Linked DNA regions of Homo sapiens: regions 1 and 3 are each linked to region 2. The links come from fine-mapping of genetic effects on gene expression. A gene starts in region 2. Each other region holds a variant in brackets. All regions are shown on one strand. Distances are between the middles of the regions.

Evidence for each region. PIP is the estimated chance that this variant, and not a neighbour inherited with it, causes the effect.
Region 1: its variant is the best candidate, but not a certain one, in a credible set for the expression of CCL28 in whole blood (TOPMed, PIP 0.50).
Region 3: its variant is the best candidate, but not a certain one, in a credible set for the expression of CCL28 in whole blood (TOPMed, PIP 0.72).

What each region holds. Positions count from the first base shown.
Region 1 is chr5:43,720,112-43,730,415 of GRCh38, forward strand. No RefSeq gene overlaps it. Among named protein-coding and RNA genes, the nearest start is that of NNT-AS1, 120 kb to the left of the region's middle. The variant T/C (reference allele first, on the strand shown) is at 6,783.
Region 2 is chr5:43,407,253-43,418,055 of GRCh38, forward strand. It overlaps CCL28 (C-C motif chemokine ligand 28), which reads right to left and starts at 5,139. Exons shown (of 3, transcript NM_148672.3): 1 at 5,001-5,139. The coding sequence starts at 5,064.
Region 3 is chr5:43,378,028-43,388,830 of GRCh38, forward strand. CCL28 (C-C motif chemokine ligand 28) reads right to left here. Exons shown (of 3, transcript NM_148672.3): 2 at 10,323-10,449; 3 at 1,166-4,025. The coding sequence ends at 3,833. Among named protein-coding and RNA genes, the nearest start is that of CCL28, 29 kb to the right of the region's middle. RefSeq lists an enhancer at 8,952-9,021. The variant T/C (reference allele first, on the strand shown) is at 4,729.

The DNA.
Region 1 (10,304 bases), 310 kb after region 2:
GGAGGAAGATCTACCAAGCAAATGGAAAACAAAAAAAGGCAGGGGTTGCAATCCTAGTCTCTGATAAAACAGACTTTAAACCAACAAAGATCAAAAGAGACAAAGAAGGCCATTACATAATGATAAAGGGATCAATTCAACAAGAAGAGCTAACTATCCTAAATATATATGCACCCAATACAGGAGCACCCAGATTCATAAAGCAAGTCCTGAGTGACCTACAAAGAGACTTAGACTCCCACACATTAATAATGGGAGACTTTAACACCCCACTGTCAACATTAGACAGATCAACGAGACAGAAAGTCAAGAAGGATACCCAGGAATTGTACTCAGCTCTGCACCAAGCAGACCTAATAGACATCTACAGAACTCTCCACCCCAAATCAACAGAATATACATTTTTTTCAGCACCACACCACACCTATTCCAAAATTGACCACATACTTGGAAGTAAAGCTCTCCTCAGCAAATGTAAAAGAACAGAGATTATAACAAACTATCTCTCAGACCACAGTGCAATCAAACTAGAACTCAGGATTAAGAATCTCACTCAAAACCGCTCAACTACATGGAAACTGAACAACCTGCTCCTGAATGACTACTGGGTACATAACGAAATGAAGGCAGAAATAAAGATGTTCTTTGAAACCAATGAGAACAAAGACACAACATACCAGAATCTCTGGGACGCATTCAAAGCAGTGTGTAGAGGGAAATTGATAGCACTAAATGCCCACAAGAGAAAGCAGGAAAGATCCAAAATTGACACCCTAACATCACAATTAAAAGAACTAGAAAAGCAAGAGCAGACACATTCAAAAGCTAGGAGAAGGCAAGAAATAACTAAAATCAGAGCAGAATTGAAGGAAATAGAGAAACAAAAAACCCTTCAAAAAATTAATGAATCCAGAAGCTGTTTTTTTTTGAAAAGATCAACAAAATCGATAGACCACTAGCAAGACTAATAAAGAAGAAAAGAAGAATCAAATAGACGCAATAAAAAATGATAAAGGGGTATCACCACCGATCCCACAGAAATACAAACTATCATCAGAGAATACTACAAACACCTCTACGCAAATAAACTAGAACATCTAGAAGAAATGGATAAATTCCTCGACACATACACTCTCCCAAGACTAAACCAGGAAGAAGTTGAGTCTCTGAATAGACCAATAACAGGATCTGAAATTGAGGCAATAATCAATAGCTTACCAACCAAAAAGAGTCCAGGACCAGATGGATTCACAGCCGAATTCTACCAGAGTACAAGGAGGAGCTGGTACCATTCCTTCTGAAACTATTCCAATCAATAGAAAAAGAGGGAATCCTCCCTAACTCATTTTATGAGGCCAGCATCATTCTGATACCAAAGCCGTGCAGAGACACAACCAAAAAAGAGAATTTTAGACCAATATCCTTGATGAACATTGATGCAAAAATCCTCAATAAAATACTGGCAAACCGAATCCAGCAGCACATCAAAAAGCTTATCCACCATGATCAAGTGGGCTTCATCCCTGGGATGCAAGGCTGGTTCAATATATGCAAATCAATAAATGTAATCCAGCATATAAACAGAACCAAAGACAAAAACCACATGATTATCTCAATAGATGCAGAAAAAGCCTTTGACAAAATTCATCAACCCTTCATGCTAAAAACTCTCAATAAATTAGGTATTGATGGGACGTATTTCAAAATAATAAGAGCTATCTATGACAAACCCACAGCCAATATCATACTGAATGGGCAAAAACTGGAAGCATTCCCTTTGAAAACTGGCACAAGACAGGGATGCCCTCTCTCACCACTCCTATTCAACATAGTGTTGGAAGTTCTGACCAGGGCAATTCGGCAGGAGAAGGAAATAAAGGGTATTCAATTAGGAAAAGAGGAAGTCAAATTGTCCCTGTTTGCAGATGACATGATTGTTTATCTAGAAAACCCCATTGTCTCAGCCCAAAATCTCCTTAAGCTGATAAGCAATTTCAGCAAAGTCTCAGGATACAAAATCAATGTACAAAAATCACAAGCATTCTTATACACCAAGAACAGACAAACAGAGAGCCAAATCATGAGTGAACTCCCATTCACAATTGCTTCAAAGAGAATAAAATACCTAGGAATCCAACTTACAAGGGATGTGAAGGACCTCCTCAAGGAGAACTACAAACCACTCCTCAAGGAAATAAAGGAGGACACAAACAAATGGAAGAACATTCCATGCTCATGGGTAGGAAGAATCAATATTGTGAAAATGGCCATACTGCCCAAGGTAATTTATAGATTCAATGCCATCCCCATCAAGCTACCAATGACTTTCTTCACAGAATTGGAAACAACTACTTTAAAGTTCGTATGGAACCAAAAAAGAGCCCGCATTGCCAAGTCAATCCTAAGCCAAAAGAACAAAGCTGGAGGCATCATGCTACCTGACTTCAAACTATACTACAAGGCTACAGTAACCAAAACAGCATGGTACTGGTACCAAAACAGAGATATAGATCAATGGAACAGAACAGAGCCCTCAGAAATAATGCCACATATCTACAACCATCTGATCTTTGACAAACCTGAGAAAAACAAGCAATGGGGAAAGGATTCCCTATTTAATAAATGGTGCTGGGAAAACTGGCTAGCCATATGTAGAAAGCTGAAACTGGATCCCTTCCTTACACCTTATGCAAAAATCAATTCAAGATGGATTAAAGACTTACATGTTAGACCTAAAACCATAAAAACCCTAGAGGAAAACCTAGGCATTACCATTCAGGACATAGGCATGGGAAGGACTTCATGTCTACAACACCAAAAGCAATGGCAACAGAAGACAAAATTGACAAATGGGATCTAATTAAACTAAAGAGCTTCTGCACAGCAAAAGAAACTACCATCAGAGTGAACAGGCAACCTACAAAATGGGAGAAAATTTTTGCAACCTACTCATCTGACAAAGGGCTAATATCCAGAATCTACAATGAACTCAAACAAATTTACAAGAGAAAAACAAACAACCCCATCAAAAAGTGGGTGAAGGACATCAACAGACACTTCTCAAAAGAAGACATTTATGCAGCCAAAAAACACATGAAAAAATGCTCATCATCACTGGCCATCAGAGAAATGCAAATCAAAACCACAATGAGATACCATCTCACACCAGTTAGAATGGCAATCATTCAAAAGTCAGGAAACAACAGGTGCTGGAGAGGATGTGGAGAAATAGGAACACTTTTACACTGTTGGTGGGACTGTAAACTAGTTCAACCATTGTGGAAGTCAGTGTGGCGATTCCTCAGGGATCTAGAACTAGAAATGCCATTTGACCCAGCCATCCCATTACTGGGTATATACCCAAAGGACTATAAATCATGTTGCTATAAAGACACATGCACACGTATGTTTATTGTGGCATTATTCACAATAGCAAAGACTTGGAACCAACCCAAATGTCCAACAATGATAGACTGGATTAAGAAGATGTGGCACATATACACCATGGAATACTATGCAGCCATAAAAAATGATGAGTTCACGTCCTTTGCAGGGACATGGATGAAATTGGAAATCATCATTCTCAGTAAACTATCACAAGAACAAAAAACCAAACACCGCATATTCTCACTGATAGGTGGGAATTGAACAATGAGATCACATGGACACAGGAAGGGGAATATCACACTCTGGGGACTGTTATGGGGTGGGGGCAGGGGGAAGGGATAGCATTGGGAGATATACCTAATGCTCGATGACGAGTTAATGGGTGCAGCGCACCAGCATGGCACATGTATACATATGTAACTAACCTGCACAATGTGCACATGTTCCCTAAAACTTAAAGTATAATTAAAAAAAAATAAATTAAAAAAAAGTTATGTTTACACTAAACTATAGTCAACTAAGTGTGTAATAGCATTATGTCTTTAAAAATGTACATACCTTAATTAAAAATACTTAAATTGCTACAAAATGCAATTATCAGAGCCATAAATGAGTCATATATATATATAGTTTTTTGCTGGTGGAGGGTCTTGCCTTGATGTTAATGGCTCCTGACTGGTCAGGGTAGTGGTGGCTGAAGATTGAGGTGATTGTGACAATTTCTTAAAATAAGACAACAATGAAGTTTGCTGCATTGATGGACTCTTCCTTTTATGAAAGATTTCCCTGTAGTATGTGACGCTGTGTAATAGCATTTTACTCTCATAGAACCTCTTTTCAAATTGGTGTCTGAAACCCTGCTCTTTCTTCATCAACGAAGTTTACTCTAAATCCTTTGTTGTCATTTCAACAGTGTTTACAACATCTTCACCAGGAGTAGATTCCATCTCACTTTCTTTGCTCATCCATAAGAAGCAACTCCTTATATGTTAAAGTTTGATCATGATACTGCAGCAATTCAGTCTCATCTTCAGGCTCCACTTCTAACTCTAGTTCTCTTGCTATTTCCATCACATCTGCAGTTACTTCCTCCATTCTGCCTTGAACCCCTCAAAGTCATCCTTTAGGGTTATAATCAACTTCTTCCAAACTCCTGTTAATATTGATATTTTGACCTCTTCTCATGAATCATGAATGTCCTTAATGGTATCTAGAATGGTGAATCCTTCCCAGAAGCTTTTCAATTGACTTTGCCCAGATCCATCAGAGAAATTACTATCTATGGTAGCTATGGTCTTACAAAATGTGTTTCTTAAATAATAAGATTTGGAAGTCAAAATTACTTCCTGACTCATGGGCTGCAGAATGACTCTTGTGTTAGCAGGCATGAAATAACATTAATCTGCTTGCACATCTCCAGCAGAGCCCTTGGATAAGTAGGTGCATTGTCAATAAGCAGTAATAGTTTGAAAGAAATCTATTTTTCTGAGCAGTAGTTTTCAACAGTGGGCTTAAAATATTCAGTAAACCATGCTGTAAACAGACGCACTGTCATCCAGGTTCTGCGGTTTCATTTCTAGAGCACAGGAAGAGTAGGTTTAGCATAATTCTTAAGGGCTCTAGAATTTTCAGAATGGTAAATGAGCATTGGCATAAACTTTAAGTCACCACCTGCATTAGCCTCTCACAAGAGAGTCAGCCTGTCCTTTGACGCTTTGAAACCAGATATTGATTTCTCCTCTCTAGTTACAAAATTCCTGGATGTCATCTTCTTCCAGTAGAAGGCTGTTGCATTTATATTGAAAATCTTTTGTTTAGCGCGATCACCTCCTTCAATTATCTTAGCTAAATCTTCTGGATAACTTGCTGCACTTTCTACAACAGCACTTGATGCTTTACCTTGCACTTTTATGTTACAGAGATGGCTTCTTTCCTTAAACTTCATGAGCCAATCTCTGCTAGCTTTCTACTTTTCTTCTGTAGCTGCTTCCTCACCTCTCTCAGCCTTCAGAGAATTGAAGAGAGTTAAGCCTTGCTCTGGATTAGGTTTGGCTTAATGAAAGGTTGTGGCTGGTTTGATCGTCTCTCCAGGCCACTCAAGTTTTCTCCATATCAGCCATAAGCCTGTTTCACTTTCTTATCATTCACGTGTTCACTGGAGTAGCACTTTTAATTTTTTTCAAGAACTTTTCCTTTGCATTTACAACTTGGTTAACTGGCACAAAAAGCATAGCTTTCAGCCTGTCTTGGCCTTCAAGATGCCTTCCTCACTTAGCTTAATCATTTCTATCTCTTTACTTAATGTGAGAGATGTGCAACTCTTCCTTTTACTTGAAAACTTAAGAGGCCATTATAGGGTTATTAATTGTCCTAATTTTAATATTATTGTGTCTTAGGTAATAGGGAGGGCCTGAGGAGAAGGCGAGAGATTGGGGAATGGCTGGTTGATGGAGCAGTCAGAACACACACAACATTTATCAATCCCAAAACGATTACAATAGTAACATTAAAATCACTGATCACAGATCACCATAACAAATATAAAAATAATATAAAAGTCTGAAATATTATGTGAATTACCAAAATGTGACACAAAGACACAAAGTGAGCACATGCTGTTGGAAAAATGATGCTGACAGACTTGCTGAATGCAGGGTTGCTACAAACTTTCAATTTGTAAAAAAGCACAATATCTGCAAAATGCCTTAAAGCACAATAAAATGACTTATGCCTGTTTATCATCAGTTTCCTGGTGACATGGTATTTCTCTCCTGTTTTTTTCCCATAGCCACGGCCCTATTATGCTCCTGTTCCTCTTTCTATAAGGATGCTAATTACAATAGCTAACATTTGTTTAACACTGATTAAGTACCAACCACTGTCCTAAAGACTTTCAATATACTAACTTATTAATTACAGCAGAACAATCCTTTGAGTAGCTATCCCATTTTATAGATGTGGAAGCTCAGGGCCCAATTAATTAAGTAGGTGGTGGCATCAGGATTTGAATCTGGGCTGTCTGGCTCCACTCTGAACCACAACACTTTGCTGTCATAGAACTGATTTGCCAACTAACATTTAGAAAACAACTTCTTAGTAAGTTGAAACTATTTGTAATTTTTGAACTCTTTGTGATACTAAACAAAGAAGCAAAGAAATATAGTAATTGTACCAATTTGACATTTGCTTAACTTCATGCATGTGTTTGGTAGAGTCAATTTTTCAGAAAGATTTTTTCACCCTTTACAAATACAGAATCAGTTGTTTTGGTGTGGTGCCATGAGAAGGATCATGTGCTTCACTCCCAGGGTCTGTAGTACTCCTTTTTATGGGCAGGCTGCTCTTGAGTAGTTTTCCCTGTCTTTCTTCCCTCTCTTTTCCTTTCTCTCTCTCCC[T/C]CTCTCTCTCTCTTCTTCTCCCTCTCTTTTTCATGGTATAGCTGTAGTCCTCATTATCTACCTAAGCATACATATCCACATAACAAGCTACAAATTATTCAACTAGAAAACCATATTGTGGTTCGGTGTTAACTATTACTCTTTCCTTATTCAAAAATTATGAAGCTTGTAGTCTAGCCTGGTTTGGGCAGAATTTCTGTCCTCCTTTTACTTCTAGTGCTCCTCTTTTTATTGTCTGGGTTCTTCATCATCTTCTGACTCTTTTCTCTGTTCCATTCTGGCCCATGTTTCCTATACAGGTTGTTTCTTTATGGTAGAGCTGATAGGCAGAAAATTTTCTGTCTGCTGTTGCTCACAGTTTAGATTCCTCTTTTCTTTTTACTACTCCAATAATTCTGCTAAACCATATTCTAGTTCCTTTGTATCACCCAGAGTTGGTCTTTCTGATATGCTTATCTTAAAAAAAATTAAAATAAAATATAAAAATTACTGATTATTAGAGACAGCACAGCTGAAGCTGGATAATAATCTAGGAATACTAAGCATGTAGTTTTTGAATTTTAATTGTTTTACTCTAAATTGCATAAAATTTCAAAGTTTTTTTAAAAAAACAAGAGTACTTAACATTAATCTAATATTAGCTTATCTTCTCTATCTAAAAGTTATTTTCTTCCCTTTACCAATCAAAGCCCTCTAATGGGTACTTTTGCTCACATTCTGTTTGCTCCTTAAAAATTTTTTTTTTGGTCCCTACCTTAATTATTTAACTGAAATCACTTTGGAAAGTAAACAATAACCTCATCACCAAATACATATCTCAAATGCATTTTCTTGCACATTTCTGTAACATTTGACACCACTGACAGACTATTCTGGGCATCTCCTCTCTAAGCTACTAATTCTTTAATTAATACAGTCTATGATAACATGAACTCTTTTGACACTTCTTTTTCTTACAATGAACTTAACTAAAACCCTTCATCTTTTTCTACACATGCTGCTGATGTGAATCCATTTCTCTCCCATTTACACATGTAGTTTTTTTTTTTTTTTAACTTGACTCATTTGAGCCCATTTTCTATCCTCTGAGATCAGGTTTCTGATTCTGTTTCATCCAATGTGTTGACTGTTCCTTCTAATTTTGTGTCACCTGCAAATACAGCATCAATTTTCTCACTGGATTCACTGAGGGAAAAAAGATGTCATCATTTTGTAGGGCTTAGGCTAAAACTGGGCAACATGCATTCCAAGCTCTTCTCCAAGGCTGACTCTGATCTGTTAATCTGGGTACTTTAGGTAGAAACAACTGTGTATATTGAACTCATATTTCTTCACTTTTTGTCCAGAAAAATATCTTAGAAGCTTTGTCAAATATCTTCTAAAAGCACACAAAAATAAGAAACTGACTAACGTAATAAATACACAAACCCAGAAATGAGTTAGTTCTGGTAGGACTTGTTTTCTATGAACTAATTCTGATCCATACTCAACATGGTTCCCTTTAAAAATTCTCATAGTCTAAGATTTTAATAATTTGTTCTGGAATGTAGCTGAAGATGATTAACAGTCCAGTCCATCATTTGCACTATCCACTTCTTGCCATTTTTGGTCAGGAATATATTTGTAACACTTGTAACACTTTTCTAGTTTGTCTTGATTCTTTAAAGATGGCTGACTACAGATTCCGTCAGCTCAAAGCATGCTCTGGAATTATGCTTGGAAATAGCATGTGAAAGTTTCATTTGAACGCAATTTAGAGGAGTTATGAGGTCCTTTGTAAGGGTCTTTTTTCCATCTAAGTTTCACTCTCTTTTACAGGAAACAGAGGAAAATGGGATTTGAGATCAACTTTCTCTCTGCTACTTACTATGACATCATCTACCATACTCCAAAGATGTGCACATCTCCTGCTCTCATTTTTCGCTAAATATGATTTTAAGGGCGAAGTTTATTGTTTTTTTCCACAGCCTTGAGCTCCCTTTGTGCTTTTGCTTTTTTTGACATTATTCTTAAGCCTCTTTGCCACTTTTTTATATGGTTCTTGGTTATTAATCCTTTTGTCATCATTGTTCACTTCATCTTAAGGTTTGAGATACTAGAAATGCTGCACACTGTCTCTCTTGCATAAAACATATCTATAGACATCAAGTAAGTTTTTTTTTAAAATTAGAGTAAAAACCTAAAAACATCTTCAATGCAATTTGAATGCAGAATTCTTTTAGTTTTTATGATTTTCCTCAAATCTTTTATAGTTGTTTCACTCCAACCTGATTTGACAATAGTACTTAAACTTATATTTTATTGGTTGATGTATTATTTAATTAAATTGTGTAATTAATATTGTGTGACTGCAAGTAAATCTTGCATGAACATGTTTGGAAACAAAACCCAGTTGCCTCTTGTTAAGCATACAATTAGCTGGTAGCAACAGAAGTCCACGAGCATTTTAGAGTAGCCTACTAGCCCAAAGCATTCAGTATACAGTGGGAATTAATCAATATATTTTACAGATGCAATGAAGAGCTTCAGTTAATGTAGTGAGTTGGTTAAGTGGAGGCTGGCTAAAAGAGTTTCTGCTGTATAATAAGATGTGCTTCTTGATCTACAATAAATTGCAAAATAGTAGCCAATTCTATCTGAATTGATTAATTCTACTATACACTATACACTATCATAATACCTGTAATACTTTATTTCCCTAACATCTAAATCTACTAAACTGTGAACTTCTTGAGGGCAAGTGTTGTCCTCAATAGATGGTTTGGTGAATATATTTTTAAAAACATAGCACGAGAAATGAAAAGGAAAAGGGAGAGAGCAAAGGGTGGGCTGATACAGAACAATAAATTTCAAAAACAATTCTGCAATATTGGTACCATAAAATTTATCACTTAAATGCTATCTGATAACTCATAGTCCCTGGTAGTGGGAAGGCCAATAGGGGTTGGAAATAGAAAGCAAGCTAGTTCTCAATATCTGCAAATTCAAAACAATAACAACTTTTGAATGCAAATTTTAGCCCTGTCTATAACGTTTCATTGAACACATCTCATTCTGTTTTAGAACAATGAAAAAATGGTATTGTATTGGGCTTTGTTAATACAAAGTAAATAGTGATTCCCATGAGAAACTATTCTGTAATTATTCTGTTTTTTCACTAGATGGTGCTTGTGAGCCAATGAGAAGAAAAATATTTGAGTTTATGGTTTATTCACTTAAGGGGAAATGAGAAATTTGTGAATTAAATAGAAAAAGACAATGAAAAATTAGAACACTTTAAGACAGACCTTTATAGTTAAGTTAAACTACTTGGAGAAAACCTCATATTACTTTCTGGTAACAATGTTAAACTCTTGGAAGAAAAAAATACTCATTCTCATTAAGACGATTACAATCACCAAATTCTGAAAGTTTTGTGGGCTGACTGTACAATCCTAATGAATTAAAAGATTTTCTTTACTCTCCTTAAAATACAACATTACCTTTGGTTGGGGGCAAAATCATTTAAATTGTTACCATGAT
Region 2 (10,803 bases):
CTACAGTAGCCAAAACAGCATGGTACTAGTACCAAAACAGAGATATAGGCCAATGGAACAGAACAGAGTCCTCGGAAATAATACCACACATCTACAACCATCTGATCTTTGACAAACCTGACAAAAATAAGAAATGGGGAAAGGATTCCCTATTTAATAAATGGTGCTGGGAAAACTGGCTAGCCATATGTAGAAAGCTGAAACTGGATCCCTTCCTTACACCTTATACAAAAATTAATTCAAGATGGATTAAAGACTTAAGTGTTAGACCAAAAACCATGAAAACCCTAGAAGAAAGCCTATGCAATACCATACATGCCATAGGCATGGGCAAGGACTTCATGACTAAAACACCAAAAGCAATGGCAACAATAGCCAAAATTGACAAATGGGATCTAATTAAACCAAAGAACTTGTGCACAGCAAAAGAAAATACCATCAGAGTGAACAGGCAACCTACAGAATGGGAGAAAAATTTTTACAATCTATCCATCTGACAAAGGGCTAATATCCAGAATCTACAAAGAACTTAAACAAATTTACAAGAAAAAATCAACCCCATCAAAAAGTGGGTGAAGGATATGAACAGACATTTCTGAAAAGAAGACATTTATGCAGCCAACAGACCATGAAAAAATGCTCATCATCACTGGCCATCAGAGAAATGCAAATCAAAACCACAATGAGATACCATCTCACACCAGTTAGAATGGCAATCATTCAAAAGTCAGGAAACAACAGGTGCTGGAGAGGATGTGGAGAAATAGGAACACTTTTACACTGTTAGTGGGACTCTAAACTAGTTCAACAATTGTGGAAGACAGTGTGGTGATTTCTCAAGGATCTAGAACTAGAAATACTATTTGACCAGCCATCCCATTACTGGGCATTTACCCAAAGGATTATAAATCATGCTGCTATAAAGACACATGCACATGTATGTTTATTGCAGCACTATTCACAATAGCAAAGACTTGGAACCAACCCACATGTCCATCAATGATAGACTGGATTAAGAAAATGTGGCACATATACACCATGGAATACTAGGCAGCCATAAAAAAGGATGAGTTCATGTCCTTTGTAGGGACATGGATGATGCTGGAAACCATCATTCTGAGCAAACTATTGCAAGGACAGAAAACCAAACACCGCATGTTCTCATTCATAGGTGGGAATTGAACAGTGAGAACACTTGGACCCAGGGTGGGGAACATCACACACCAGGGCCTGTCGTAAGGTGGGGGGAGCGGGGAGGGATAGCGTTAGGAGATATACTTATTGTAAATGATGAGTTAATGGGTGCAGCACACCTACATGGCACATGTATACATATGTAACAAACCTGCACATTGTGCACATGTACCCTAGACCTTTAAGTATAATAAAAAAAAATTGGTGTGGATGTATGTGTGGGTTCACATTGCTAAATGCATAGAGGAAATTCTGGAAGGATATGCAGAACCCTCTGGAGAGGGGAGAGGGATTAAAGGAATGATGAAGAGGGACTTTCCTTTTTTTAATTCTTTAAATTTTTATATTTGAAAATACACTAAGTATTTGTAACTTTCATAATATTAGGATAAATTCTTTAATTTTTGTGACATTTTTGGTAATTTTATTTTTTTGGTAATTTTTTACTTTTTTTTTTTTTTGAAATGAGAGTCTCACTCTTTCACCCAGGCTGAAGTGCAGTGGTGCGATCATGGCTCACTGCAGCCTCGAACTCCTGGGCTCAAGCAATCTTTCTGCCTCATTCTCCCAATTGCTGGGATTACAGGCAGCGAGGCCAAGGCAGGAGACTTGCTTGAGGCCAGGAGTTCAAGACCAGTCTGGGCAACATAGTGAGACTCTATCTCTACAAGAAAAATTTTTTTAATTAGCCAGGTGTGCCTGGGCATGGTGGCTCACACCTGTAATCTCAGCACTTTGTGAGGCCGAGGTGGGTGTATCACCTGAGGTCAGGAGTTTGAGACCAGCCTGGCCAACATGGTGAAACCCCGTCTCTACTAAAAATACAAAAATTAGCTGGGTGTGGTGGTGCACGCTTCTAATCCCAGCTACTCAGGAGGCTGAGGCAGGAGAATTGCTTGAACCCAGGAGGCGGAGGTTGCAGTGAGCCGAGATTGCACCATTGCACTCCAGCCTGGGCGACAAGAGCAACAAACTCCATCTCCAAAAACAAACAAACAAAAAATTAGCTAGGTGTGGTGGCATGCACCTGTAGTCCCACCTATGTCAGACCTCTTAGGGACCACAATTGGAGTCCCAATTGTGCAGAACAACATTGAGTCACAAATGTATATTCGTGGTAACCTTCCCTAGCCAGAGTCTTATGATTAAAACAAAAGGTAAACGTTTTAGGATGCAAGCAGCAAATCTCTAGCAAGTATTGGTGTGATTCAGTAGCCATTGTACTCTGAGAAAGAAGGTTGTCAGTGGGAAGGCAATTTGGGACTCACTGCAGCAAAACCTCCTAACTTGAATCTGCTGGGCACAAGTGAGCCTTAATCTTAATGTACAATAAAACAGCCAGGCCCACAAAGTCCTAGATTGTGGGTTTAAATAATCAGGCTCAGGGCCACCGAAACAGGATGATAGACATGTTTATGGATTCAGTATTGAGTTCTGGGAGCCAGCAGCCACGTCAGCAGAGGTGGAGTGTGCCCTACCTTTGGGCAGAATCCAAGGCTTTTAATTATAGATAAAGTCACCTGCTTCCTGATTTATGCAAAACACTTAGGGAATGCCAGTTATTGAGCCATCACAACAAGATAGCCATTTAAGACACCATTAAGATAAGGGAACAGCTTTCTGCCTCAAGGAAACAAAATATATTTCCCAAAGTTCCAAACTGGCACAGGCCTTTTTCCTATTCCCCTTGCCAAGGCCACCTGTCCTCTTCTCTGCACTGTTGAGTTGTTGAGTGTTCTCTACCTTCCTCCCTCCCCACTTGGTTTTCCACCCCCTCCCTGGAGCCAGAATCACTTAAGTGCCTCCCACAGGGCACCTGGCTTACATGGACACTTGAGTGGAAGTTTGTTAAGAATAGCTGTGGCGTTGCCCCTCTATTCCACGACTGTTCTCAGGCCTACTTGTGTATTTTTACCCAGTATCACTTATTTTTAAATGACAGAAGTTTGGAGCTTCTCAGGCAATGTGATTTTCCTGTGGCCTAAACTGCCTTAGGTAAAGCATCGAGACTAACCCAAAAGGCTATTGCTGGGTCTCTCGGCTCCCTTCCTTATTATCACCAGCAGCCGTACCTTTTCACACACCTCTGCATTTTGCCGTTCCACCCCACCGTCTCTACCAGGACTCAGTCCCATGTGAAGGTGGGTCCTGGGTATGGCAGAGCCTTCCTCATTACCCTCTGCCTCCTCGACCTGCTGTTCCCTCCCTCCTTTCCTGTAGGAGAGCTGCCGCTGTGGGGACAGGTGGGAGTAGGTCAGGAAGCTGGATGGAGGTACACATTTCAAAGTTTTATGTAAAAAATTTGAGTTGGTGGAATTACCAGAACTAGGAGTGAAGCCTTAGCAGGTAGGCCTTTCAGAAATAGTGAAAATGAGTCCCCAAATCTCAATGGTGAATTTTTCTGAGAAATGTTACAGAAACATAAAGTGACAAATTTTTGTCTTTATATTGATAAGATAGATAGATTAGTAGAAATTGAGAAGAGATTGTCCAGGTTTTTTCTGTTGCTTATTTGTATAAGCCCAGTACATTGACGGACTATATTGGGAGTCCCTAAGCAAATGCCTGCAGGGACCAGGCAGTTAATACAGCAAACTTCAGAGGCTCATCTGCTTTAGCCAGTTCTTGCCATGGTATGGTGGAATCATTGTTGCCACATCTGATTTCTCAAGAGAAGCTTTAAAATCCAATTTGTATGTGTGTATGTATGAGTATGTACATGAGAAAGCTTTCAGTTTTAAAATGTTGGCTCAGATTTTTAAAAAGCAGACCAAAGACTTATATTCCACCTCTGCTCTAGACTTAGAGAATCTGTTCAGGATAAAGCTTAAAGAAAAGATGACAATGGAAAAGAGTCATTGGTCAAGTATTAAGTACTGACACTTAGGGTTTCCTGAATATAGTAGTGAGTGCTACTTTAGAAGAGATTCCCTCTAGTTCAAATGCAGTTACAATCTCCAAATACATGCTAGCAACTCACGATTTAAATTCTCTTTGACATAATTTGTATGGTTCAATCTCCCTCATCCTGCTTTTCTTCTTTTTCTTTCTTTCCTTTCCTTTCTTCCTTTCCTTCTCTTTCCCCTCCCCTCCCCTCTTTTTGTTTTTAACAGATGGGGTTTTACTATGTTGCCCAAGCTGGAGTGCAGTGGCAATTCAGAGTGCAGTGGCAATTCACAGTGTGATCATAGCTCACTGCAATCTTGAATTCCTGGCCTGAAGCTATCCTCCAGCCGTAGCCTCCCAAGTAGGTGGGAATACAGGCATGCACCACTGTGCTCAGCTCTGCCCTCCCTTTTTAAAGGTCAGACTGAAGTTTCAGTTTTCTGTATCCATAGAGCTGACTTTGCTCAGGAAATTTACAACTTACCTAATTTGAACGCAGCTGGCCAAGTCTGTATTTCCCTCCAGGAATGTGCACAGTTGTGTTCAGACCGTTTAGCAGGTTGGGGTGTGGAGGAAGACAGATGAATAGTAGGGGCTTTACTCCAGCCTCTAGCTGGGGATTTTCTAAGATACTGTCTTCAGAAAAGGAAACATAGCTCGAAGTTGTACCTACATGGAAGGACCTCATCCTCCAGGTGGCAAAAATTTGTAGTATGCCTGTTAGAATGAGGTTCCTTCCTGAAACTTCTGGGAGATCTAGAATTTAAAGCTATGTCATTCTCTTGTAGGTAATCAGAAATCAATTGGAAATTCCTGCTTGAAGAGATAGATATTCTTGCCCCACCTCAATCCTTCCAGCACAGATTTGGGAGATACCCCCCTTTCCAGTGAAGGCCTAAGTGTCCAGTGCCCCCACTCACCTTCTGAGGCATGTAGGGCCGCACAGACAGCCAAGGCCACGATGGCGAGTCCTCTCTGCTGCATTCCTGCCTGCCCTACTGGCACTGACAGCAACACAAGTGAGGCTGTTCGATCAGGAAATGAGGCTAAAGGTGTCCTTGGGCACAGAGAAAGTGCAGAGGAAAAGTAAGCCAGGTGGCCCCGCCCTGGGAGGTGTTCAGGGTATCTATTTCTCATGTTTCTTTCCTTAAGACCAGGCTCCTCCTCGACTTATTAAGCTCCTAACTTGTGTTCATCCTGCCTGGGGGTCAGGGGATGTCAATGGAGATCTGGCAGCTGGCAGGGTCACTGTGAGGTGGGGTGTGCATCAGAATCATTTGGGGAACATTAAAAAAAATCAATCTAAATGACTCTCCCCTTTCCCTGATTTGTAAACCAGAACTCCCAGGTAGGAGACCAGTCATTTGAATTTTGTAAAAGCTCTATAGGTGATTCTGATGGACACTTATGTTGAGACCCATTGCATAATCAGTTTTTAAGTAGCTTATGGAAACCATGAGTTTCTGGGGACAAGGGTGACAAGTCATAAAAAATGTATCTTTGTGGAAAGATATGGAAGTATTAAACCCCACTTTAGTCTTGGTTCACAGCCAAATTGTTTCCAGTGAAGCTTTTTACAATAGCTTATTTAGGAGAAAGACAGGAAGGGGGGCAATGCCTTGTAGAAAAGAGCCCAAGAGCAGGTGTGAAGAGGCATGAGCGCTAGTGCAGCTTTGCTGCCAATCAGCTTTGTGAATAAAAGCATGGGGTAGCATGAAGATAATTGGATTCTAATTGTTCCTCATCTACTAATAAGTTGTATAACCTCAGGCAACGTACTTAACTTTGCTGTAAATAACAAGTCAGACTAGATGACCTCCAAAGTCATGCCATGCTTCCTCTAGAACTGTGTTGTCCTATGTGGTAGCCGCTAGCCCACATGTGGCTCTTGAGCACTTGAAATATGAGTAGTCCAAACTCAGATGTACTATGGGTATAAAATTCACACTGGATTTCAAAGACTGGGTACAGAAAAAAATATAAAATATCTTGTTAATAATGTTTATACTGTTTATTGATTACATGATAGTATTTTGGACTTTTTGGGTTAAATAAAATATATTATTAAAATTAATTTCACCCATTTCTTTTTATGTTTTCAAATTACTGCTGTGGTTTGAATATTTTTTTCTTCTCCAAAGCTCATGTTGAAAATTAATCCCTAATAGTGCTGGGAGATAGGGCCTAATGGACAATGTTTAGGTTATGATGGCTCCACCCTCATGAATGGATGAATGCTACTATAAAAAGGGCTTGTGGGAATGGGTTGGTACCTTCTGCTCTTCTGCCAGGTGAGTACACAATGCTCCTTCTCTCCAAAAGATGCAGCAAAGTGGCATCATCTTGGAAATAGAAACTGAAATCACTGGAGCCTTGATCTTGGACTTCCCAGCCTCCATAATTGTAAGAGAATACATTTCTGTTATTTATAAATTGCTCAGTCTCGGGTTGTGGTGTTATGATATATATATTGGCTTTTATCCATGGTTCCTGGCTTATAACTCCCATAACCCTTGTTACAGTTTTTTTTTGTTGTTTGTTTGTTTGTTTTTTTTTTGAGACAGAGTCTCGCTTTGTTGCCCAGGCTGGAGTGAGTTTCACCATCTTGGCAAGATGCTGGTCTTGAACTCCTGACCTTGTGATCCACCCGCCTTGGCCTCCCAAAGTGCTGGGATTACAGACATGAGCCACTGTGCCCAGCCCAGTCTTTTTTTTATATTATAATGTTGGGGCACTTTAGGCTTCAGGAACAGGCCTCAGGAAACGGAATCTCTCTCTGACCTTCTGTTTTTCTTTCACCTGCCCAAGGCAGGACTCTAATCTGATTGTGGGTCATAAGATCCTCATTCCAGAAAGGGTTCTGTCCCATACTCTAGAGGAAGGAATGCTACACAGGCCAAGAAAAGCCTGAACAGGCAGGACTTGCTGGGTTTAGATTATGTGCTTTTTGTCTAATCACATTTCTACATGGTTGTTAATCATGCCTATGTAATGAAGCCTTTGTAAAACCCCAAAAGGGCAGAGTTTGGAGAGCTTCTGGATAGCTGAACATGTGGAGGTTCTTAGAGGGTGGCGTGCCCAGGGAAGGCATGGAAGCTCTGCATCCCTTCCCCCATACCTTGGCCTCAAGCGATCCTCCTGCCTTGGCCTCCCAAAGTGCTGGGATTACGGGCATGAGCCACTATGTCTGGCCTTCATCTGTATCTTCTGTACTGTCTCTTATAATAAACCGTTAAATGTAAGTATTTCCCTGAGTTCTGTGAGCCACTCCAGTGTTGCAGGAAGTCAGGAACCCCGAATGGAGGGACCAACCGGCTGAAGCCATGGCAGAAGAACATAAATTGTGAAGATTTCATGGACATTTATTAGTTCCCCAAATTAATACTTTTATAATTTCTTACGCCTGTCTTTACTGCAATCTCTGAACATAAATTGTGAAGATTTCATGGACCCTTATCACTTCCCCAATCAATATCCTTGTGATTTCCTATGCCTGTCTTTAATCTCTTAATCCCATCATCTTCATAAGCTGAGGAGGATATATGTCACCTCAGGACCCTGTGATGATTGCGTTAACTGCACAAATTGTTTGTAGAGTATGTGTGTTTGAACGATATGAAATCTGGGCACCTGGAAAAAAGAACAGGATAACAGCAATGTTCAGGGAACAAGAGAGATAACCTTAAACTCTGACTGCCGGTGAGCCGGGCGGAACAGAGCCATATTTCTCTTCTTTCAAAAGCAAATGGGAGAAATATCGCTGAATTATTTTTCTCAGCAAGGAACATCCCTGAGAAAGAGAATGTGTCAGTGAGGGTAGGCCTCTGAAATGGCCACTTCAGGGGGTGGCCATCTTTTATGGTCGAAGCTGTAGGGATGAAATAAGCCCCAGTCTCCCATAGTGCTCCCAGGCTTATTAGGATGAGGAAATTCCTGCCTAATAAATTTTGGTCAGACTGGTTGTCTGCTCTCAAACCCTGTCTCCTGATAAGATGCTATCAATGACAATGCATGCCCAAAACTTCATTAGCAATTTTAATTTTGCCCCGGTCCTGTGATCCTGTGATCTTGCCCTGCCTCCATTTGTCTTGTGATATTCTATTACCTTATGAAGCACGTGATCTCTGTGACCAACACCCTATTCATACACTCCCTCCCCTTTTGAAAATCACCAATAAAAACTTGCTGGTTTTACGGCTCAGGGGGCATCACAGAACCTGCCAACATGTGATGTCTCCCCTGGACACCCAGCTTCAAAATTTCTCTCTTTTGTACTCTGTCCCTTTATTTCTCAGACTGGCCAACACTTAGGGAATATAGAAAAGAACCTACGTGAAATATTGGGGGTGAATTTCGCCCGATATCTGGCTGAATTTCCCCCATACTCCAGCCAATTAATCAAACCCATAGAGAGGTTGTGGGAACCCCAACTTGGAGCCAGCTGTTCAGAAGTTCTGGAGGTCTGGACTTGTGACTGGTGGGAAGTAGGGGGTGATCTCATGGGACTGAGCCCTCAACCTCTGGTTCTGGCACTATCTCTTGGTAGATAGTGTCAGAACTGAATTGGAGGACACCTAGCTGGTGTCCGCTGCTTGGTGTATGCACCAATTTACCCCCTACATATTTGGTTATAGAAGTCTTCTGTGTTGATGATTTTTGTGGTATGAGAGCAGAGGAAAAACAGTTCGAGAGTTTTTTTCCTCAAACAGAGATATTCTGTTATAGCAGCATAAAACAGACTAAAACAATTACATATGTAATTGAAACCCAGAATATTTCAAATCACATGGGTAGATCACATATTTGCATTGGGTGTTGCTGCTTTTGAAGATCAAGAGCAGGTGTCCAAATTTACCCCAGCTATCAAGTTACATTTAACCAAGCTCCAATTCACTATCAAGAACCAGAGTTATAATAAGGAATGGGAGCTTTGGAGAGCAACAGACTTGCAAAGATAGTGACCTCTTGAATGAGAAGACCCACAGCAGCATTCCAGCCTTTCCACTAAGCAAAGGGACCTTACCACAGGTCTTGATAAAGGAGGACAGAGAACCAACCTGTGGAGGTGACAAAGACCTGTGAAATTACACACACCAGCCATAACCACAGGAGCCCCTCTGGACCAAAGCCGTGTGCTCTGAAGATAAGAGTCAGGAGGCTGGGTGTGGTGACTCATATCTGTAATCCCAACACTATGGGAGACCAAGGTGGAAGGATTGCTTGAGCCCAGGAGTTTGAGACCAGCTTGACCAACATAGCAACACCTCAGCTATACTAAAAATTTTTTTAAAAATTAGCCAGGCACTGGCATGCGCCTGTAGTCTCAGTTACTTGAGAGGCTGAGGTGGGAGGATCTCTTGAGCACAGGAGGTTGAGGCTATAGTGAGCTATGATCATGCCACTGTATAACACAGTTATTAGGGCACTGACAAGAAAGGCTGGACTGAATTTGAATGAGCCTGCAATTAGGCCCCCTGTATTCACTCGTGTACTTTTATTTGCTTTTGTATTTGACAAGACAGCTTCTCTTTCACTGTGTGCATATTTCTTCTGCTAGGAAATGTCACCTTGCCCCTGCCAGCAGGAAGACATAGGGACAGAATCCAGGGACTTGGAAAACAAAGGGACTCCTCCTTGGGTTGTTAGCACTCTCCCTTTCATCCACACTTTCCTGGGGGCACTGGAACAGGTTCGTGGGTTGGGTAGTGGTTACTAGAAGACAGCTGCTATAACATGTAGAACCAAAACTATTGAAGCACTCATGAAATTACCACCACTGGAATTACAGCCTTATGGGAGGGTATTATGTTACCCTGGTGCTAAAAAGCAAGCCTGACATCTGCCAACAGGAACCTGTAAACCACTAAAAACCCTATGCCATGTCATTTTTTTTTACTAAGTTTTTGTACTAAGACATGAATAAGAGGAACGCTGGGCACATCAGTTTTGTTTGGAGTGAGAGAAAAACTGAACCATGGGATTTTTGTCTGCAGAGAACACAGGACAGTTTATGATTATGGGGCATGTGTGTCTGTGTTTGAGAGGGATGCTAACTAGGCAGAAATGGACCACCGATAAACTAGGAAGGAGCCCCAAAGGGGTGGATTCAGATGAATAACTTTGATTACCTAAGTATTTTTCTCTGTGCACAGGGACTCTGCAAAAGAAAATGAGGAGACAGAAATGTGTGCCGTTAGGGCCCAGAGGATAGTTGAGCCATAGAATGAAACAGTTGAGGACCTAAAACTATGTCTGGTTTTGTGTTTTCCATTTATGAAATGGTCCTGGCTAAGAATATCTAGATGTAACCTTCCAGGAAAAAAACAAAAAAAATTACCAGGAAGAACCACATAGTTTTTACTTTAAAAAGAAGTAAATTGTAAATCTCAAATGATCATAAAAATACCTGCTGCCATCTCTGCACTGGGCAAAATGACCTGCTTGGATTAGAAGGATGATTTCCAAACAGTAACTTTCGCAAAATAAAATTAAGCCACTGAAGCTTTCTTGAATATTTGTCTTGGAAAATTAGTATATGGATGGAATATATATATATATGTGTGTATCTATATATATAAAAATTTTTTTTGAGATGGAATTTCACTCTTGTCACCCAGGCTGGAGTGCAGTGGCACGATCTTGGCTCACTGCAGCTTCTGCCTCCCAGGTTCAAGAGATTCTCCAGCCTCAGCCTCCCAAGGAGCTAGGACTACAGGCATGTGC
Region 3 (10,803 bases), 29 kb before region 2:
GGCCAGAACTTAAACTTTTTAAAGGATTAAGAAAGCTAGGTGCAGTGGCTCATGCCTGTAATCCTAGCACTTTGGGAGGGTGAGATGGGAGGATCGCTTAAGCCCAGGAGTTCAAGACCAGCCTGGGCAACATAGTGAGACCCTGTCTCTACAGAAAATAATAATTTTTTAAAAATAGCCAGACATGGTGGCACATGCCTGTAGTCCCAGTTACTAGGGAGGCTGAGGTAAAAGGATTGCTTGAGCTCAAGAGGTCAAGATTGCAATAAGCCCAGATTGCTCCACTGCACTCCAGCCTGGGCAACAGAGCAAGACCCTGTCTCAAAAAAAAGGATTACAAGATGTTGCCTCAAGGATAGGTCTAGGAGTAGGGAGGATAGGGTGGGAGGATGTTATTTTTATTATAAATTCTGCTGTACTTTTGATTTTTTAAATCGCACACCTATATTACTTCAATAAAAATGTAACTTTTCAAAAAGAAAACTTAAAGGATTAACGAGGTGATTTACTCATAATACAGTAACTCATGATATAGTAACAGTATTTACTCTTAGTACAATAATAGTACATAGTACAGTAACAGTGATACAATAATGTTTTACTAAGCACATGCAATAACCTGTAAAATGTAATTTCTTTAAGAATCTGGTTTTGGCCGGGCGCGGTGGCTCACGCCTGTTATCCCAGTACTTTGGGAGGCCGAGGTGGGTGGATCACAAGGTCAGGAGATTGAGACCATCCTGGCCAACATGGTGAAACCCTGTCTCTACTAAAATACAAAAAAATAGCCAGATGTGGTGGTTCGCACCTGTAGTCCCAGCTACTTGGGAGGCTGAGGCAAGGGAATTGCTTGAACCCAGGAGGCAGAGATTGCAGTGAGCCGAGATTGCACCACTGCACTCCAGCCTGGTGACAGAGCAAGACTCCATCTCAAAAAAATAAAAATAAAAATAAAAATAAAAAAAATCTGGTTTCCCAGGCACACTATCTTCAGACAAAGTTCAATTATTTGCGTGGCAGAAAAATCAGTTTTTAAAATATATCATGTAAACCTACTGTCATTCATAGCTGCCCAACAATTGTGTAGAATTGCAGATCGATCTAGTAAGAAGAAATAAAATGGAAAATAATTCAAGTTGTTAGTTGAAAGAATTAGACACCAGTGTTTTGGTATCTTAACTTTTATTAATGTTGGTTATCACGGTTAATTAATTTAAAATGGAAAATAATTCAAGTTGTTAGTTGAAAGAATTAGACACCAGTGTTTTGGTATCTTAACTTTTATTAATGTTGGTTATCACGGTTAATTAATTTAAAATTGTGGTTTATTAATATTTTAAGTTACTCTCATATTATATTTTATTAATTTTTTCTTATTTAAAAAGCTTGTCTCTGCCACTTCCTGTGTGACCTGGGCAAGTCATTTTACCTCTAAGAGCCTCAAATTTCCTCATCTATAAAGTGGAAATATAAATACAAAGCTTGCAGAAATGTCAGGAAAATAAATAAATTAAATGCTAAATAGTCAATGAGGGATATTAGGCAAAGGCCAGTTTTGGTGGCATTTTAACCTATGGAGACTCAGTGCCTCTGTGTGTCCCATTATCACCTCCAAGACATCCTGGCAACACCACCGCTTGGGACTAGCCAGCAGGGAGGCCCAGGACACCTGCCACCTGATAAAGTGGCTCCTGCTCTCTATTGGCTTCTTATGAACACTACTGGGCTCTTACCTATCTATCTTGAAGCCTCTATGGACAAAAAAGAGGCCAAAAGAGGAATGGCACAATGGTATCAACTCAAACGTGTGAGCCCGGCATGGTGGCTCACGCTGGTAATTCCAGCACTTTGGGAGGCACAGGCGGGTGGTTCACTTGAGGTCAAGAGTTTGAGACCAGCCCGGCCAACGTGGGAAAACCCCGTCTCTACTAAAAATACAAAAATCAGCGGGGTGTGGTGGCTGGGCGCCTGTAATATCAGTTACTTGGGAGGCTGAGGCAAGAGAATCACTTGAACGCGGGAGGCGGAGGTTGCAATGAGCCGAGATTGTGCCACTGCACTCCAGCCTGGGCAACAGAGTGAGACTCTGTCTCAAAAAAAAACAACCAAACAACAACAAAAACGTGTGAGAAGGGTGGAATAGGAGCTAAAAGATGTAGGCTCCTTGTTTAGGCAGAGCGTAAAATCACCACACAGAAGGCCGAACTCTGGGCCCCTAACTAGTGCTGCTCCAAGAACTGACTGGGGGAGGCAAAAGGTTCTGGGCAGAAAGGCAGGCTTTTTGTTCTTTTCAGTATCAGAAAATTTCAATCCAAACAACGGTAGCTACTCAAACTAGACGTTTTGAAGTTATATTTAGTTTAAACTATTCTATTTAGAAAATAAACCCTAATATTTATGAACTCTAAATGACAAAATAAGTACACGAATTCACGTAGGAAATTCTTAACCAAAAACATTAAACCTGAATTTGATCACAAGAAAATAATTAGGCCAGGCACTGTGGCTCACACCTATAATCCCAGTACTTTGGGAGGCTAAGGTGGGAGGATCGCTTGAGCCCAGGAGTTTGAGATCAACCTGGGCAACATAGTGAGACCCTGTCTCTACAAAAAATAAACAAAATTAGCCAGGTGTGGTGGGTATGCACCTTGATCCCAGATACTCGGGAGGCTGAGGTGGGAGGATTGCTTGAGCCCTAGAAGTTGAGGCTTCAGTGAGCCAAAATCAAAATTGTGCCACTGCACTCCAGCCTGGAAGACACAGCAAGACCCTCCCTCAACAAAATAATTTTAAAAATTAAAAAAAAAAGACAGAGGAACTTTCTTAGATTGAAAGATATTAAAGAAAAATAACAATTATTTGCAATATGTATGTCAACCTTGATTGATTACTGGAGTGAAAAAAAAACTACATAAAATGCTCTCTAAATAGTTGGGAAAATTTGAATATGGAATATATTAGATGAAATTATTAATTTTTTAGGTATAAAACTGATAAGGTGATTATGTAGAAAAATGTCTTTATTTTAGGGTATGTCAAGTTATAACACCAAAAAGAAACTAGGGGTGAAGTGTCATGATTTTTGCAACTTATTTTCAAATGGTTTAGCAAAACAAGATATATTTTAAAAGTTATAATATTTTATATAGAAACACATACAAAGAGAGGAGAGAGAAAGCAAATGTGACACAATATTAACAATGATTAATATTGTGGTGAAAGATATATAGATGTTCATTGTACCATTCTTTTAACTTCTCTGTAAGTTTGGAAAACTATAATTAAAAAGTTGGGAGAAGTTATATCTATATGCTCCTCTTAAAATATTATATGAAGATATACACTATCATTATTATTATTATTTTTAGAGACAGGGTCTCATTCTGTCACCCAGGCTGCTCACTGCAACCTCAAACTCTCCCAGACTCAAGTGATCCTCCCACCTCAGCCTCCCATGTGGCTGGGATTATAGGCAAGTACTACCATGCCGGGCCAATTTTTTTTTTGTTTGTAGAAATGAGGTCTTGCTATGTTGCCCAGGCTGGTCTCAAACTCCTGGTCTCAAGTGATCCTCCTGCCTCAGCCTCCCGAAGTGCTGGGATAAAAGGTGTGAACCACCATACCCAGCCAGTATTATCTTTTCATTTCATTTTCCAGTTGAGTATATTATTGGCTACATTTGCATACCGCACAATTGTTCATTTTTTAAAAACCAATATTTTGTTTTGTTCTGTTGTCTACAATAAGGAGAATTCAGATGATAAACTTACAACCAATCATGGCCAAGTCCACTTGAGGAATTGTCTCTGTAGATTTATCTGTAGACTCTCTAATAAGGAGTTTTATGGCCGTATGTTTCGTGTTTCCCCTGATGTGCCCTGTTACTGTTCCTCTTGCCATGGTGTTTCTTCCTGTGGCAAACATTTCCTTTACCATTTTTCTTGGCAGCTTGCACTTTCATCCACTGCTTAACAGTATGGTTGTGCGGGCTGACACAGATTCTTCTGCGCTTGACATGAAGGCTGTTAGAAAAGGAAGCAAAAGAAAGTCACTGATATAAAACATATATAAATAATCACTTAGTGACTTACATGCAGCTCCCACTTTGGGACACTGTATTCCTAGAGACTAAATTCAGACTAAATTTCTGAATTAAGTGTAGAAATGAAGTGAATTCTAAAGCTGAGCACCACAAGGTTCAATTTTGACTTTACAAACACTGCTGCCTGTGGGTCCTCAGATATCATCAGAGAGTATTAAAAGAAAGAGAAGGAGAAGAAGGAATTGGATGAGGAAGAGAAGAAGGAGAAAAGGAGGGAGAAAAAAGAGGAAGAAGAAAAGGAGGAAAAGAGACAATAATAAAAACCAAGTGAACCCAACAAAACCAATTCATCCTCACAGCCCATCTCAAACACATCCTTAAGGTTTGTTTGAGATTTTTCTGATCCGTAAGGATTTGTAGATTCTCTCAGCTAGATGCCGTCTTTTTTCCCCTCTGATTCTCCACGGTGAGAGTTATCTCTTTTCTGGCACTTACTTTATTCTGTCTTTTATCTGAGTACTTGTCTCATCTTTCCTACTGGAGTTATGCTCCTTGAAGGAGGAATAGTCTAGAAGTGTCTTGAAAACGCCTTATTCAAAACTGAAACTAATTTAAAACTTAAACTTAATTTAAAACTTAAATTAACAAAACAAAACTAAGATATTCTAGGCATTTGTTAACAT[T/C]TTAATATGATATAGATCTATGCCACAGTTCAGAATGTGCTTTCATTTTCATTTTTCTTTTCTTTTTTTTTGTTTTTGGTGAGATGGAGTTTTGCTCTTGTCACCCAGGCTGGAGTGCAATGGCATGATCTCGGCTCACTGCAACTTCCGTCTCCCGGGTTCAAGTGATTCTTCTGCCTCAGCCTCCCGAGTAGCTGGGATTACAGGTGTGCACCACCACACCTGGCTAATTTTTGTATTATTAGTAGAGATGGGGTTTTACCATGTTGGCCAGGCTGGTCTTGAACTACTGAACTCAGGTGATCCACTCGCCTCAGCCCCCGAAGTGCTGGAATTACAGACATGAGCCACTGCACCTGGCTCATTTTCATTTTTCTATATGAAGTTTTCACAGTGGGCTGGGAGAATGCTACAGCATGCACAGTTTCTGGTAACTAGAATAATTTTTTTTGTTGAAAAAGATATTGGTGACTTCTAATTTCCTCATGAGGGGTCATCAGCTCTTACCAAATGTCACAAATCCTGCTGGCTCTACATATATAGTATTTCCGTATCCAGATAAATTGAAACTTCTGACCCTGTTATTCAGGGAAAAAACAGAGGTGGGGTAGAGAATAAGCTGCTATTTTTCTAGATGACGCAAGTTGAATCTTTTTCAGCTAATGTAGGGACTACTGAAATGGGAGAAAAGTGGGGAGAATCGGGGGAAAGTTACAAATGAGCTTTAACATAATAAAGCCAGCATATGGGGAATATTAATTTGAAAGAAGTGGAGCATCTTAATAAGAGAATAATATATTCCCTATGTGTATTAGATAGAGAGTCTTAAAAAAAAACAAACAGCCTAATTCTCACTATGGTCAGTTGGTTTGCTATCATAGGAGAAAACGTGGCTGTAGCACTGTTGCGTAGGAAACAAAAACAAACAAACAAACAAACAAACAAAAATCTGGCACTGAAGCTCCTACCCTTTCCAGAGGACTAAAACTCTTGCCTCTCCCTGTGATGTCAGAAAGAAACTGAGCAGATAAAGATTTTAGTGACATGCAGGCTGGGCACGGTAGCTCACGCCTATAATCCCAACACTTTAGGAGGCCGAGGCAGGAAGATCACCTGAGGTCGGGTGATCGAGACCAGCCTGGCCAACGTGGTGAACCCCTGTCTCTACTACTAAAAATACAAAAATTAGCTGGGCATGGTGGCACGCACCTGTAATCCCAGCTACTTGGAAGGCTGAGGTAGGAGAATCGTTTGAACCAGGTAGGTGGAGGTTGTAGTGAGCTGAGATCATGTCACTGCACTCCAGCCTGGACAACAAGAGGGAAACTCCGTCTCAAAAAGAAAAAAAAGAGAAGATTTCTGTGACATGCAGATAAGCCCATAAGTTACACAGGAAAGACCTACGATTCAAGTCCATTATAAAAATAAGAGAGATGGGATTCAGGGAGGGGCATTGGCACCGGGGCTGAAGGAGAGAACCAGATGGAAGAGATATAGACAGAGGATTCAGAAAGGTGGAGGACCATAGGAAAACAGGCAACAACTAGCATGTGGGCTTTTTCAAAGACTTGCTGGTGAGGCAACCTCTCAATGTAATTCAACTGGGGAAAAAAATCAGCTACCAGAATACAGCTCCCAAATCTGAGATCCCATGATGTTTTAGAATCCTAAAGTTTAAAAACTTCTTAAATCTCTACTTGGATCCCATGTATTTTCCACCAGGATAGAAAGAGATGAAGTAATGTTGGAAACGGGGCTGGCCTATTCCACATTCCTTCCCCTACTCGCAATTCCATAGTATTCTGATGGGCACCAATCCCCACCTTCCCAACGGTGAGTTTGTAGGTGGAGAGTTTTGACTGTAAGAAATCCTGAGGCCAATCCCCCTTTTTTTTTTTCTTAACCCTCAGGAGGATAGCTGGAGATAGTCTGATGGACGTAAAGGGGTGGCCCTGCCATAGAGATTATACCTTTAATATCCCTTAAACTTTATTTCTTTACCCATTCCTCTAAACACAACAACGCCTCACAACCACATCTGAAAAACTACTCAAGCCTTCCAGATAATTCTATTTAAAAACCTCAAATTTTCTCACAACAAAAAATGTCTGTTTGATTCAAGAATCCTCAGGCCTCTGCCCAACATAAACAACTTTTTTTTTTTTTTTTGAGACGGAGTCACCCAGGCTGGAGTGCAGTGGCGCGACCTTGGCTCACTGCAGGCTCCGCCTCCCGGGTTCACGCCATTCTCCTGCCTCAGCCTCCCGAGTAGCTGGGACTACAGGTGCCTGCCACCATGCCCGGCTAATTTTTTTGTATTTTTAGTAGAGACAAGGTTTCACCGTGTTAGCCAGGATGGTCTCGATCTTCTGACCTCGTGATCCGCCTGCCTCGGCCTCCCAAAGTGCTGGGATTACAGGCGTGAGCCACCGCGCCCGGCCATGATAAACAACCTGTTATTGTATTTATGTTCAGAAACATTCAGAAGCTCATTAATGAAGTCACTGTAGAGGAGTTTGAACAAGAAAACTGCTGTCTCAGGCATCAAAAACTACAATGACCATTTATAAGGTATAAAACATAGGACCTATTTCTAGGCAGAAAAGAAAGAAGCCTAGTAAGTTTACCGTACGTTGACTTATATTAATTAATTGTTATTAGTAATACATGCTACTTGGGAATTACATTTCCAGTGTTAGCAATGCTTTCTGCATCTTAAACACTTTCTCAAATCTTAAAGTCTTTATACCCAGTCAGGGATAAGGGACTACATTTTAGATAAGTAAAGACATGCTCCATACTAAACTAATCTGAAAACAAGAGAATCTTTATCTATTCTTGTTGAACATCAGGAAACACAACAGACAGGATCTGTAATTTATGGTTAAAAAAATACTACAGAATTAAATTTAATTTTATTTGAGATTAGGTCATAACAACTCTGTATTTTTCAGCTTTCTTAGCACAGAGAGGTCAATTTACAAATTGTGCTTGAATAAAGTAAATATTTTTAGATCCAACTGATTGGCTTCCTAGTTCCTCTTTAATTAAAATTGAGTCCTTTTTAAAATGAAGACTTATGTTTCTGATTATATTTTCCCTTATCACAGCAAAACATCATTTCTGTTCCTATGCCTTTCAGATCTCTGACACCTGCTTATCCCAAAGAAACATCCCTGAAAATCCTGTTACCAATACCTTCCCTGGATAACCTCCAGAATCTCTTATACACCCACAGAAACTTCCTCTGTTTTTTTTCTCCAAGCCTTTCTGGGAGTCCTATTGGAGCCCTTACAAGCTTCAAGCTTCAAGTCTGAGGTGATATGTGCCAATAAGGTGGAAGGAATTGAGAGGAGTTGAAAATTTGGAGTTTCTCAGAGCAACTGGAGCAGGTTCAGACAGATTTAGTGCAGCTGTGTCCACTTGACACAAATATCCAGCTGTTTCTAACTACCTAGAGCATTGTCTATCCACGCATTGTCTATGAATTTTTTACTTTCCAACTATTACCAACAATATTCTTTAAGATTAAATAAAAGACTGGTAGAATCTTGGCCAGACATGTACCAAGGAATTTTTCAAAGAAGTTGGGAACTTGGAGCACCCCTCAGAATCCTCATTGGTATGTAGCCCCTGGAGTGCCACAGATGATGCTGGTTCCCAATGACTAAACCACCTGAGCCAATGGAGCCACGTGGTGGCTTGAACTGAGGAGATGCTGAGAAAATTCTCAGGCTTCTCCCTTCTCCCACAAAGACACTCATGCTTAATACAAGTTTGAATCAAGAATTGTTTCCTCCCCTACATCTGACCCTGAGTGTGACCTTTAAACTTTATTTGATCTCAGAAACTTTGAGAATCTTATAAAACCTATGGACCCTCTAAAAATGCTCACAGGTTCATACACAAAAATTTCAGGAAGTTCACAGCCCCTAACCTGATGAAAGTCTATCAACAGACATCTTACAAACTCTTCCTCTGAACTTTTAAGAACGCTTATCTTGGAGCAGTTTTTCCTCAAAATTGAATAATGGATAAATCCCTCTGAAAGGGGGGAAAATATATTTCAAATTCCAGAGATCATCTCAAATCATTAAGATGATCTGCAGAACCCAGCTGGATAAAGAGTCCCCTTGAGACTCTAGGCAGACAGAACCCATTTTGTCACCACTGCATCCCCAGCATATAGAACAGTGCTTGGTGCATAATTGTTAATTCATAAATATTTGTTGAATTCACTGAAAGAATAAGGTTTCTGAGTGACTCAGGAGCTCAGGCATAAGCAATGGGTTTATTTATAGCCCAAAGAAAGGAGCACCAAATGACTCACTAGCATCACCTGGAGCCACAAATGGTGTTAAAACCAGCATGCCAGGGAGATGCCTGATACTCGGATGCAGTAGAGTTTGGAGAGGGTATTTTATGGTTAGTCCCACCACTGCTTTAGAATGACATTGGAGGTGTACAAGTGTTCTGAACTAAGAGACCTGGGTTCACATCCTGTTTCTGCAATTCACGAGCTGTACACAAGTGAACCGTGTAACCTGAGTCACAGCTTTCTCCTGTGTATGATTGGGAGATCATTTATGCTTTCCTCACAGCATTGTTGTCAGAATCCAGATTTACTAAATACCAATGCAGTTCAGATGTTAGAGCCTCCATAGAAATGTTAAGTACATATACAAACAAAGCTTTTAATAACTGAGCCAGGGGCAGGGGTGGGAGGCTTCACTGTGAACCAACACCACAGAATCAAAAGCAGAGATTGGATTGGCATTTCTGATTGGATTGCATATAGCACTGTGACAGGTATAGATATTTCCACGCTTCTTTTTGAACCTTTTCTTTTGTTTTTCTTTGCCTTTTTGTTGTTGTGGTGGTGGTGGTTTTTTGAGACGGGATTTAACTCTGTCACCCAGGTTGGAGTGCACTGGCATGAGCACGGCTCACTGCAGCCTCGAACTGGGCTCAACGATCCTCCCATCACAGCCTCCCAAGTAGCTGGGACTACAGGTGCATGCCACCATGCCTGGCTAGTTTTAAAGTTTTTTGTAGAGATGGGGTCTCACCATGTTGCCCAGGCTGGTCTTGAACACCTGGGCTCAAGCGATACCCCTGCCTTGGCCTCCCAAAGTGCTGGGATTACAGGCATAAACCACCACACCCAGCCTAACTTTTTGAACTTTATAATATGCTCCTGATGAATTCATAAAGTAGAAATGACAGCAACCCATATACTAAAAAAGGTTAAAAGCCATGAAATATAACAGAGTTATCTTTTGTTTGGGGTTTTGTTTTGCTTGGGAAAGTCATGAACACTTTTTGGTGACTGGGGGAATTTAGTCCTAACCACAGCACTACAGGGTGGAAGTAGATGGTGTGCTGGTATGGGGCTCAGGACATCTTTGGACAGAGAGACTATGAATTTACTCCAGGGAGCCTGGGGCCTAATGGACAGAATATTTACTCTTCCCTCCCTTGTTTGGATGATTGTTTGTATGTTGTAATCAAGCAAAGCCTTTCCAACCTATTATTCGTTGGGCAGGGAAATAATCACTGTGCAGGTTTAGACCTCCCGGCTGATGAGCACTCACATGACAGCAGCCAAGTCACAATCCCCATCAGCTCTCTGGATGCGACACATATTCACTCTTTCCAGGAGCCTTCTGGAAATATGATGTGAAACCTCCGTGCAACAGCTGGAGGCAATGGGAAGTATGGCTAAAAGAAGAAAAGAAAGAAAATGTTAAATTTTACGGTTTATAGAACACTGGCATGGTTCTCATTTTAAAGATTTCAGAGAAACAATGTTAATCCACACAAACAAGGGGCAAACATGGCTTTGTGAATACAGACTTGGGGCAGGACATGTTCCCACTTTCTGGAATTTAAGCTATATTTGTGAAAGAGAAAATGTAAATTTAGGCAAAGACACAAAACAAGTGAAAGAGATGAAAAGAGTTACAGACAAGGATTCTGGTGGTACTGCAGACTGATCAAAGATGAAAGGAGTGAGGTCAACACGGTGTTTCATGCATTTTGGAACTGGAAAAGCATCATTCGTTCAGCAAACAT